Regions from separate parts of the Homo sapiens genome. Here region 1 is linked to region 2. Evidence: fine-mapped expression QTL. A gene starts in region 2. The other region holds a variant in brackets. All regions are shown on one strand. Distances are from middle to middle.

Evidence for each region. PIP is the estimated chance that this variant, and not a neighbour inherited with it, causes the effect. A credible set is the group of variants that fine-mapping cannot tell apart.
Region 1: its variant is the best candidate, but not a certain one, in a credible set for the expression of USP24 in esophagus muscle (GTEx, PIP 0.51).

What each region holds. Positions count from the first base shown.
Region 1 is chr1:55,060,945-55,066,459 of GRCh38, forward strand. It overlaps PCSK9 (proprotein convertase subtilisin/kexin type 9), which reads left to right. Exons shown (of 12, transcript NM_174936.4): 11 at 431-612; 12 at 2,425-3,908. The coding sequence ends at 2,640. It overlaps USP24 (ubiquitin specific peptidase 24), which reads right to left. Exons shown (of 68, transcript NM_015306.3): 68 at 5,415-5,515. Among named protein-coding and RNA genes, the nearest start is that of PCSK9, 24 kb to the left of the region's middle. The variant C/T (reference allele first, on the strand shown) is at 3,211.
Region 2 is chr1:55,212,303-55,217,302 of GRCh38, forward strand. USP24 (ubiquitin specific peptidase 24) reads right to left here and starts at 3,062. Exons shown (of 68, transcript NM_015306.3): 1 at 2,488-3,062. The coding sequence starts at 2,811. LOC100507634 (a long non-coding RNA gene) reads left to right here and starts at 3,106. Exons shown (of 1, transcript NR_038320.1): 1 at 3,106-5,000. RefSeq lists an enhancer at 1,950-2,009 and silencers at 2,470-2,659, 2,730-3,239.

The DNA.
Region 1 (5,515 bases), 150 kb before region 2:
TTAGCCAATGGGTGTGTCTGACTCCTAAGCCCATGGAGGGCATTCTGAGGTGGTTCAGACAGACCCCGGCTTACCCTTGAACTTCTGCCTGCTGGCTGCATAGGGAGGGGCTGGGGGGAGTTTGAGCATCTCAGGCCATAGAGCCCCTGCCTCACTGTCTCCATCTCTGGGTGGAAAGATGGTGTTTTCCCTGAGAAACTAAGGCTCAGAGAGGTTGAATGGCTCTCCCAAGGTCACACAGCTGGTCAGCTGCAGAGTTGAGAACACAGGAGTCCTGGTGCTCAGGCCAGCATCTCTTTTTTTCTTTGAGTTGTTTCTAGGTTTCCTAGCTCTTGCCTCAGACCTTAAAGAGAGAGGGTCTGATGGGGATGGGCACTGGAGACGGAGCATCCCAGCATTTCACATCTGAGCTGGCTTTCCTCTGCCCCAGGCTGCAGCTCCCACTGGGAGGTGGAGGACCTTGGCACCCACAAGCCGCCTGTGCTGAGGCCACGAGGTCAGCCCAACCAGTGCGTGGGCCACAGGGAGGCCAGCATCCACGCTTCCTGCTGCCATGCCCCAGGTCTGGAATGCAAAGTCAAGGAGCATGGAATCCCGGCCCCTCAGGAGCAGGTGAAGAGGCCCGTGAGGCCGGGTGGGTGGGGTGCTGCGTGTCTCTCCTGCACAGCTTTTCTGTGTCAGTTTGTGCCACCACCATACCGCCATGCATCAGGGTGGCGGTTTGCCAGGTAGATGCTGTGGGCAGCTTCCGCCATTGTGTGGACAGCATGTATATGTGTCTCTGTGTGGCTGGGTCTGTTTTTGCTTTTGTCCAGATCAGTAAGGTTTGCTACCTGGGTACCCCACTCCACTTGGAGTAGAATGTGCATAAATATGGCATAAAGAAATGCAATATGCATGCATTTATTGATTGATCTATTTTTTTCTGAGATGGGGTCTTGCTGTGTTGCCCAGGCTGGTCTCAAATTCCTGGGCTCAAGCAATCCTCTGGTCTCAGCCTCCCCAAGTGTTGGGATTATAGGCATGAGCCGCTGCACCTGGCCTCTCTGATCTATTTAACAAACCTGCTGGGAGGGTCTCAGGGTCAGGAGCAGCACTGGGCTCTGAGGACACAGAGCTCACTCAGCCGTGACCCAGAGGGGGTGCCTGAGCTGCATGCTGAAGGTTGTTAGCATGACCAGCAAGGCAAGAAAAGGCCCTGCCGAGATTAGCAAGGCATGTGCCAAGCCCTGGAATGTGACAGCCGGGCCTTCTAGAAACCTGAGTGTATAACTCTCCTTAAAAGCCAGTAGGAGCTCCTCAAAAGGCAGCCCTAAGGAGTCCACTCTTAAATGAACTCAGAGTCAGTTTTAAAATGCAAGTCTGTGTTGATTCTGGTCTGGATGGTGCATTCCTCGAGAGCAAAAGACAGTCTTGGTCTTGGATCCACTTGCCCTGGGTACACTGAGGGCTGCTAGGTTCCAGGTGCTCTTCCTGGCACTGGGGAGGGATACAGGCCCAAGAGACATGCTGTTCTCCCTCCTGGAGCATCTATTTTAGTGGAGGAAGACAGAAAACAAACCATTAATATAGAGTACTGAAAAGATGCGATGGAGAAAACTATAGCAAGGAAGGGAATGGGGTGGGAGAGAGGTCAGGAGAGGTCTCGCTGACAAGGTGGACGAAACAGGCCATGAGGCAGAGAACATGTTCCAGGCAAAGCAAAGGCCCCCAGGTGGGGATGTGCAGGGAGTACCAGGAAACCAGAGAGGTGGGAATAGTTATGAGATGGGGGGTGCCTCAGAGGGGACAGGGCCAAGTCAGGTGAGACCTGAGGGTCACAGTCAGCAGTGAGCTGGGGCCATGCAGGGGTCTGGCCTCAGAGGAGTGTGGTCTGGCCTGGATCTGAACCTCTCACTGTGGCCTAGCTGCTGAGCTGAGAAGAGATGACAAGGACCTTGGGCAGAAGCAGGGAGACTGGAGGGAGGCGGTGGAGGGTCCAGGCGTTGGGGCGGGGCTCAGGCTGGAGTCTGAAGGGAGCCTGCAGGCCTGGTGGGTGGATGTGGGTGGGAGAGGGGGAGGATGGCACCAAGGCTCGGGCCCCTGGACAGATGGAGTTGCCATTAAGTGGGATGGGGCAGGCTATGGGGCCATCAGTTTCAGAGGGATGAGTTTGGCACTGGCATGGTAGGCATCTGTCTATCTCCACGGCCCTCAAACCAGGCATGAAGCAGGAGCTCACGTGTTTGGTCAGCCATGGTGCAGAACCGCCTGGGTGGGAGGTGCGGGGTGGGAGATACACGGTTGTGTCCCAAATGGGCTCTGAGCCAGCGAGGGCCGTCTGCACTTTGGCCTCACAGAAGGATGTCGGAGGGAGAAATGAAGTGTGGGTGGGGGTCCCGGGCCACGCTAGACATGTGCTTTCTTTTCCTCGGGCTCTGGCAGGTGACCGTGGCCTGCGAGGAGGGCTGGACCCTGACTGGCTGCAGTGCCCTCCCTGGGACCTCCCACGTCCTGGGGGCCTACGCCGTAGACAACACGTGTGTAGTCAGGAGCCGGGACGTCAGCACTACAGGCAGCACCAGCGAAGGGGCCGTGACAGCCGTTGCCATCTGCTGCCGGAGCCGGCACCTGGCGCAGGCCTCCCAGGAGCTCCAGTGACAGCCCCATCCCAGGATGGGTGTCTGGGGAGGGTCAAGGGCTGGGGCTGAGCTTTAAAATGGTTCCGACTTGTCCCTCTCTCAGCCCTCCATGGCCTGGCACGAGGGGATGGGGATGCTTCCGCCTTTCCGGGGCTGCTGGCCTGGCCCTTGAGTGGGGCAGCCTCCTTGCCTGGAACTCACTCACTCTGGGTGCCTCCTCCCCAGGTGGAGGTGCCAGGAAGCTCCCTCCCTCACTGTGGGGCATTTCACCATTCAAACAGGTCGAGCTGTGCTCGGGTGCTGCCAGCTGCTCCCAATGTGCCGATGTCCGTGGGCAGAATGACTTTTATTGAGCTCTTGTTCCGTGCCAGGCATTCAATCCTCAGGTCTCCACCAAGGAGGCAGGATTCTTCCCATGGATAGGGGAGGGGGCGGTAGGGGCTGCAGGGACAAACATCGTTGGGGGGTGAGTGTGAAAGGTGCTGATGGCCCTCATCTCCAGCTAACTGTGGAGAAGCCCCTGGGGGCTCCCTGATTAATGGAGGCTTAGCTTTCTGGATGGCATCTAGCCAGAGGCTGGAGACAGGTG[C/T]GCCCCTGGTGGTCACAGGCTGTGCCTTGGTTTCCTGAGCCACCTTTACTCTGCTCTATGCCAGGCTGTGCTAGCAACACCCAAAGGTGGCCTGCGGGGAGCCATCACCTAGGACTGACTCGGCAGTGTGCAGTGGTGCATGCACTGTCTCAGCCAACCCGCTCCACTACCCGGCAGGGTACACATTCGCACCCCTACTTCACAGAGGAAGAAACCTGGAACCAGAGGGGGCGTGCCTGCCAAGCTCACACAGCAGGAACTGAGCCAGAAACGCAGATTGGGCTGGCTCTGAAGCCAAGCCTCTTCTTACTTCACCCGGCTGGGCTCCTCATTTTTACGGGTAACAGTGAGGCTGGGAAGGGGAACACAGACCAGGAAGCTCGGTGAGTGATGGCAGAACGATGCCTGCAGGCATGGAACTTTTTCCGTTATCACCCAGGCCTGATTCACTGGCCTGGCGGAGATGCTTCTAAGGCATGGTCGGGGGAGAGGGCCAACAACTGTCCCTCCTTGAGCACCAGCCCCACCCAAGCAAGCAGACATTTATCTTTTGGGTCTGTCCTCTCTGTTGCCTTTTTACAGCCAACTTTTCTAGACCTGTTTTGCTTTTGTAACTTGAAGATATTTATTCTGGGTTTTGTAGCATTTTTATTAATATGGTGACTTTTTAAAATAAAAACAAACAAACGTTGTCCTAACTCTTGCATAGACTTGACTGCCTAGGGTGATGCCTTGCTTATACTAGGAACTGGGTAAGTTTGTTGAATAGTTGAGTAAGCCAAGTATTTGATGAGTACTTTTATCTTGAGTACAAGTATTGGGCAAGTACTGGTGATGTGAACTTACTCCTTGTGCCTATCCTAGGAATGAAATGAATGTCTTCCTGCAGCTCCCCTGACCACCCTGACAGTCAAAGTGCCTCCTCCTTGGTGACAGGTGCCCTACAGCACTCTAGATGCTCTGTTGTCCTGACCTCCCAATGCCCTTTTCATTCTTTTCTCCCCAGTACCTGGCACACAGCCTGGCCCGAGTATTTACGGAATAAGTTACAGTGCCAGATGCTTCTGTAATGAGCCAGTGCTAAGTCCATGGCTTTTTTCATGATTTAAAATTCAGAACAGTCTCAGATTGGGTGCAATGGCTCACACCTGTAATCTCAGTACTTTGGGAGGCTGAGGCAGGAGGATTGCTTGTGTTTAGGAATTCAAGACCCTGGGCAACAGTGAGACCCCGTCTCTATAAAAAAATTTAAAAGATTAGCGAGGTGTGGTAGCACATGCCTGTGGTCCCGGCTACTCAGGAGGCTGATATGGGAGGCTTGCTTGAGCTGGGAGGCTGAGGGTGCAGTGAGCTGTAATTACATCATCACTGCACTGCAGCCTGGGTTACAGAGTGCATAATGATCCCATTCAATGTGGGACCTCCAGGCCCTCCACTCTAAGGCTGGTGAATATAGCTGTCTTAAGCAAGTTCTCTCTCTCTCTAGACAGCCCATGTCATAAGGAATCTCAGGCAAAATTCCTCCCAGATTACATTTTCTGACAATTCAGTGTCATATATGGAAAGCATTCAAGAGTTGACAGATGGCAATGGCTTGAACACCCAACTGTGTTATCTCTGCCCGTTGGAACCTAGGCCTGTGGTGCAACCCTAGACTCTCTCTCCTTCCCCTCCACAGAATCAAGTATCAGCTGGTTAGAGATCCACACCCTGACAGCTCTGTGATGTTGGAACAACTTGGTTCTTGCAGAGGGTTAGCAGGTGGTCACCAGGGATCGGGGAGGAAGGGGTGTGGCTTGCAGGAAGGCGAAAATCTGGACTAGCAAATAGGGAAGGGGACCCATGTGAGCAACGCTGGCCACTAGGAATGAGACTGAGACCTGTGGGATCTAGCAAGAAGCCCAGTGTGACCAGCGACACGATCTATGCTGGGGACCACTTGGGAGAGCCAAAAGCTTTGGTGGAGATGAATGGAGACCATCAACCTAAGTTCAGCATCCTCCTCTAAGCTTTGCAGATGAATCCTGAAATGGTCAGCCCCTCCAGAGAAAAGAACAGCAACAGGCTCAGAGGACCCACAGTCCCCTTTATTAGTGTAAAGTACTAAGAGGAATCAACAGCATTTAGCACCAGGCACAGGCTCGTGTTCCCCCGCCCACTACGGCTGTGTTCTGATATATGAAGAATGGCGGCAAGACTCCAACTCTGTTTTTGAAAAATTTATTTTATACTCTTAGAAGCTAAGAACTTTGCCACACATGAACCAAATTTAGAATTAAGGTTCTTCCCTAGTGTATCTACTTCC
Region 2 (5,000 bases):
TTTCTCCTTACTATCCATACTGTTACCAAACAAATTTAATCCTAAAACCATGAGTTGAGCAGAGTGAAAAGCACACTGGCTTTGAAGTCAAAGAGACCTGGGTTCAAATTCAGCCCCTGCCACCCACTACATAATCATATCCCTAAAAAGCCTACGTTAACTCTCTCACCAAGGGTTAAATAAACTGTATAACGCACCTAAGACAGGGCCTGACACCCTGTAGATGCTGGATAATATTTATTACCTTTCCCTATTTCCCAAGATCAAGAGCCTCAGTTTCCCACTGTGTACACCAAGGATGACCAAGAAGTTCCATAGGTGGCATGCATTAAGATTATTAAACCACAGAGGCACATTCTGCGTTAAATGTTTCCAAAAGGCTCCTGTGTGTCAGGAAAGTCTCAGCCTGCCAACCTCTGCCAATACGCTTCGTGGGTAAAGCAGCCTCAGTCACCAGCTCCTCTTGAACTCTTAAAAGTAAACGGTGCAGCTTCCCTCCCCCAGGCCAAATCCACAGGTCTAGGAGAAATGAGGACTTGATGCACTGCTTCGAAAAGATGGAGATTTTATGGATTTTAATTTACCGCAAACCAAACTCCTTAGCCTGCCATTCACGTAAGAAGCCACTCCCAATTCTTTGTACTTACATGTACTGGCAGTAAGCTAAGGTTAGCGCTAATGTTAACATGAATGCACCAAGCATTGTAATTTAAATTGATTTTCCAATCACAGGAAATTAAAAGGTATGACAAAAGAAAAAAAGAATCACATTTCTCACATAATGAGGATACACTGAGCTTTGCAGAGTTATACAAACACCTTCTGAAAAAGCAACGGCTTTCTTCTTGATTTCAAAACTGGGTCAAAAACTAGAAGGAACGAGGGAGGAGTGATAGGAACTGCCAATGAGAAGCTGATTTCTTAAAATGACTTAAGTATGGTTACTCAATTATATGGGAATTTAAAAAAATTCCCAAACTAGGAATAGTAACAATCTTTATTTCCATATACTAGTCAACGATACAGCTAAGTTAGTGGGTTACAGAGGGCAATCTAGCAACTGTGTCTAAGTGTGGAAGCCAAAGAAATCTTGTGCAGAAACCTGTTCTTTTTAAGTGCCACCTTCTTGTTCAAGCTACTTCAGCCCGAGGAACTGTTGCAAAAGCATACAATTAAAAGGATATAACACTGCTCAGGAAAAAGTGTTTCAAAAGGCTTAGCTTCACTAAGCTTAATTCTTCATTAAGAACGAACCAAATTCGTATCTCTACCTAATAACGCAATCCCAATAATTTGAGATCTGTGCTTTTCTGTGGTCAGGCCAAGCTGCTCTACTGGCCCCTGAAATGAACTACCCAACGAATCTGACCAAAATTCCTGCCATGAGCTACTATGTTTCTGCAAAGTAATTATTCAAAAGCACTGCTGCTTCTGGTCGATCTTTTTTCTTTATTATAGAAGAGTCCGTTTTCTTCCCCCACGTTCCTTGCTCACACCCCAAACTAAACAGGCATAGTCTTCTCCACCTAGACTTGAGGTCTCTGATCAAAGCCATTAGCCTCAAGACTCCTCCTCCACCCCCACTGCGCTCCCACCCTGTTCCGCGCCCCTCTGCATAGCACCCTCAGTATGACTACCATCTCTTTCCCCGGTCTAATTTTCTCTCATTTCTGACCTTATCGATGACCAGTACTCCCTCTTTACCCAGACCTGGTGCCAGCTCTATCTTCCAATTCCAGTCCCCATCCCTGCCTAGACCCTCCTCAGCTCCCACCCCTGCCCAGGCCTCCCACCTCTGCCCTCTCAGTGCAATCCCCACTGCTCTCATACCTGATTTTATTCAAGTCCTCATTCCTGGCCGCGGCCCCTTCCCTCTTCATTTTAAATCCTACTCAATGCCCCCCCTTTCCGACCCTTGGCTAAAACCCCAACCTCACTCCTAACCCCAACAGTTTTCCTGTGATCCTGTCAAAGACCACTACTCTGGCCGGCCCACACCGCTTTTTCTGACTCTGAGCCTGGTGCCTCCGCCAATCCTTCACTGAAACCTCGTGCCACAAAATCTCCGACCTAGCCTAGTGCACTAGTACCCCATTTCCGACCCCCTACTGCACGCATCCTTCCCACTATATGCTCAAGTGTCTGTCCTCCCATCTCGGATGATAGCCCTGGAGCCTCCTCCCCATCGTCGGCGTGCATAGCCGGAAGCCTAAGGGACCCCTCCTCACCCCAACCCACAGCTCCGCTGCGCATCCCTAATTCCCTTTCACACGCCTCTCCTATGGGTCCCTCTCCCCACTTACCCCCAATCAAGTGACTTCGGTTCCCAACTGGAGCCTGGGGCTTCTCTCTCTCTCTCCGCCCCGCCCCCACTAAAGCCCCAGTCGAATGCCCTCTCTCCCCACACCAAGCCCAGCGGGGTGTGTCCCCTCCCAGGAACTCCAGCCCAGTGGCTTCCCACAGAGGTCTGGGGTTGCCCCTCCTCACCTCCGCGTCCACCACCTCGTGGTAGGCGGGCGGGGGGTCGAAGCCGCCCCCGCCTCCGGTGCTCCCGCCGCGGGAGGGGCCGCCGCCGCCGCCGTCACCTCCGCCGTCGCCCCGCGGGCCCCCGCCGGGCCCGGGGCTGGGGCCACCGCCGCTGTCCATGGGCTCGTAGCCGCCGTAGTCGAGGCCCGGCCGCTCGTTGGTGAGCAGTGCCACGGCCTCGTTAATGTCGTTCTTGGCCAGGCGCAGGGCCTTGCGGATGGTGGCGGGGTCTGAGAAGCCCATGCACAGCAGCGTGGTCATGTGCTGCTCCTCCTCCGATTCCATGGCTTGGGCCTCCTGGCCGCCCCGGCCAGCGCACGGCGAAGCTACGGGTCCCGGGCCTGGCGGGCCGCGCGGCGCACCCTCCGCGCCGCCTCCGCGCCCAGGTTGGCCCCTGCGTTCCTGCCCCGGGTGCTCCGCAGCAGCCGGGCCAGGCTGGGTGCGGGCTTGGGTCCTGCGAGCCGAGCTAGTGCGGTGAGGCGCTCAGGCGCGGCTGCGGCCCGGCCCAGCCCTGCGCGCCGCCATGTTGGCCTCCTCCCCCTCCGCCTCCTCCTCCCCGGGCGGCGGGGCCGCGCCTCGGCTCCCGGAAGCGGCACGGGAGGCGACCGTGCTCGCCGTTGGCAGGCTAGGGTTGGCGGCGGCGTATTCTGTTTGTTTTAAACGAAGGAGCGGAGGGAGGGGCCGCGCCGCGGAGCGTGCCTAAGGTGAAAGGGCTGCCGTGCAGCCAGGCAGAGGCGAGGAAGGCTTCTCCATCGTCGCCACCGCCCGCCTGTTTCGCCGGCAACAGGTTCCCCCGGGACGGGAGGGGCCGCAGCGCCGCGCAGCTCGCAGCGCTGAACGTCGCGGAAATCCCTTGGCCGGCCGAGCCTCCGCAGCCGCGACCCGGCTTCTCTCCGTCCGAGTCCCCCGAGCCTCTCCGAACCCCCGTTGGACTTCCCCTCCCTGGCCGGCGCCGCCCGACCCGCTCCCCCATCCTAGAGGGAATTCCCTGCGCCGCGGCTGTGAGGCACCTCCACCCCGGCCTGAAATGCACCGCAGTCCTGAAGGAAATCCACCCTCATCCCACGCAGATTCACCCGCAACGCTGCCTGAATACGCCTCGCTGCCCACAGAAATTCCTGCCCAAACCAGACGCGTGGACCACCCAAGACGAAATTCACACTCGACCCTAGCCCCGCCAGCCCTTGCCGAAATCACCCTAAACCCGTTGAAATTAATTCCCAGCTGTCCGAATTTTCCTTCCAACATTAACTGACTACCTGTCTCCGCCAAGCTGACTGAACTCTACCGAACTCTTACCCTGAAAGCCCCTGAGAGTCCAAAATATATTTTTCCAGCCCGAAATCTAAATCCCAGTTCTCTGTATGAAAACCTCCAGAAACCCAGACTCTTACTTCCTTCGGCCACGGACTCGTTCGAACATCGTGGACATCACCTTCCCACATTTTTACCGCAGTCTTTGGCTCCGATTCTTTGTCCCTGCCTCTTGGGCAGCATCCTATCCCTGTTTCTTTCCACCTTTGAGGATTCCTCTACCTCTTTAAAGGCCTGCTTTCTTTGCTTTCTCTTCTCACCTTTGGCATTGGCACACTGGGGTCATATCTTTAGTTCCCTTGACTCCACCATCTAAGCCAAGGGTGTCCAATCTTTTGGCTTCCCTGGGCTACATTGGAAGGAGAAAAATTGTCTTGGACCACATATAAAATATTCTAACGCTAATGGTAGCTGATGAAACTTTTAAAAAATCTCATCATGTTTTAAGAAGTTTACGAATTTGTGCTGAGCCGCATTCAAAGCCGTCCTGGGCCTAAGTCCTTGCTATTTTTCCTCTTCAATTTCCTTCAATCCATAGTTCTCTAGGTTATTTTCCCACCCTTTCCCAAGATTCGGATATCCCTTCATTCTTGCTGAGTTCATCTCCTATGCCTATTCCTACATACTTGCTGAGTTCATCTTCTAATGTCCTCATCCTGGTTTCTTCCTGAACCTGAAATCCAGCTAACCTTACTTTTTCATCCCATCAAACCCCTGCTGTTGCCAGCCCAGCACTCACGAAGATCTTTACATACACCAAATATTAAATTAGGGCCGGTACCTAGACATTGTCTCTGCACTCTGCTGGCATATTTTCCCCTGGACCACGAACCCTTCGTACCTAGTAACTTGCCACCTGTGTTTATAAATACCAGCAATTTGATTTACAGGGTGAATTTGTCACTATTGTTTACTTTTAAATGAAGTTACTGTATTTGTTGTTTCCATTAAAGGCGACATTATAAAGCCTAGGCCTCATATCCAAAGCAAATAAAGTCTCAATTTTTTAATTAAAAGTAACAAAAGGAAACCTCACACTTCTGAACAACAATGACAAGAAGGAATGCCTATAATTGGTTTGGGTCACAATGTACATATTGAAATAAAATTTTTATTAAGTATCAACTTCCAGGTACACAATGAAGTTTTAAATGTTTATC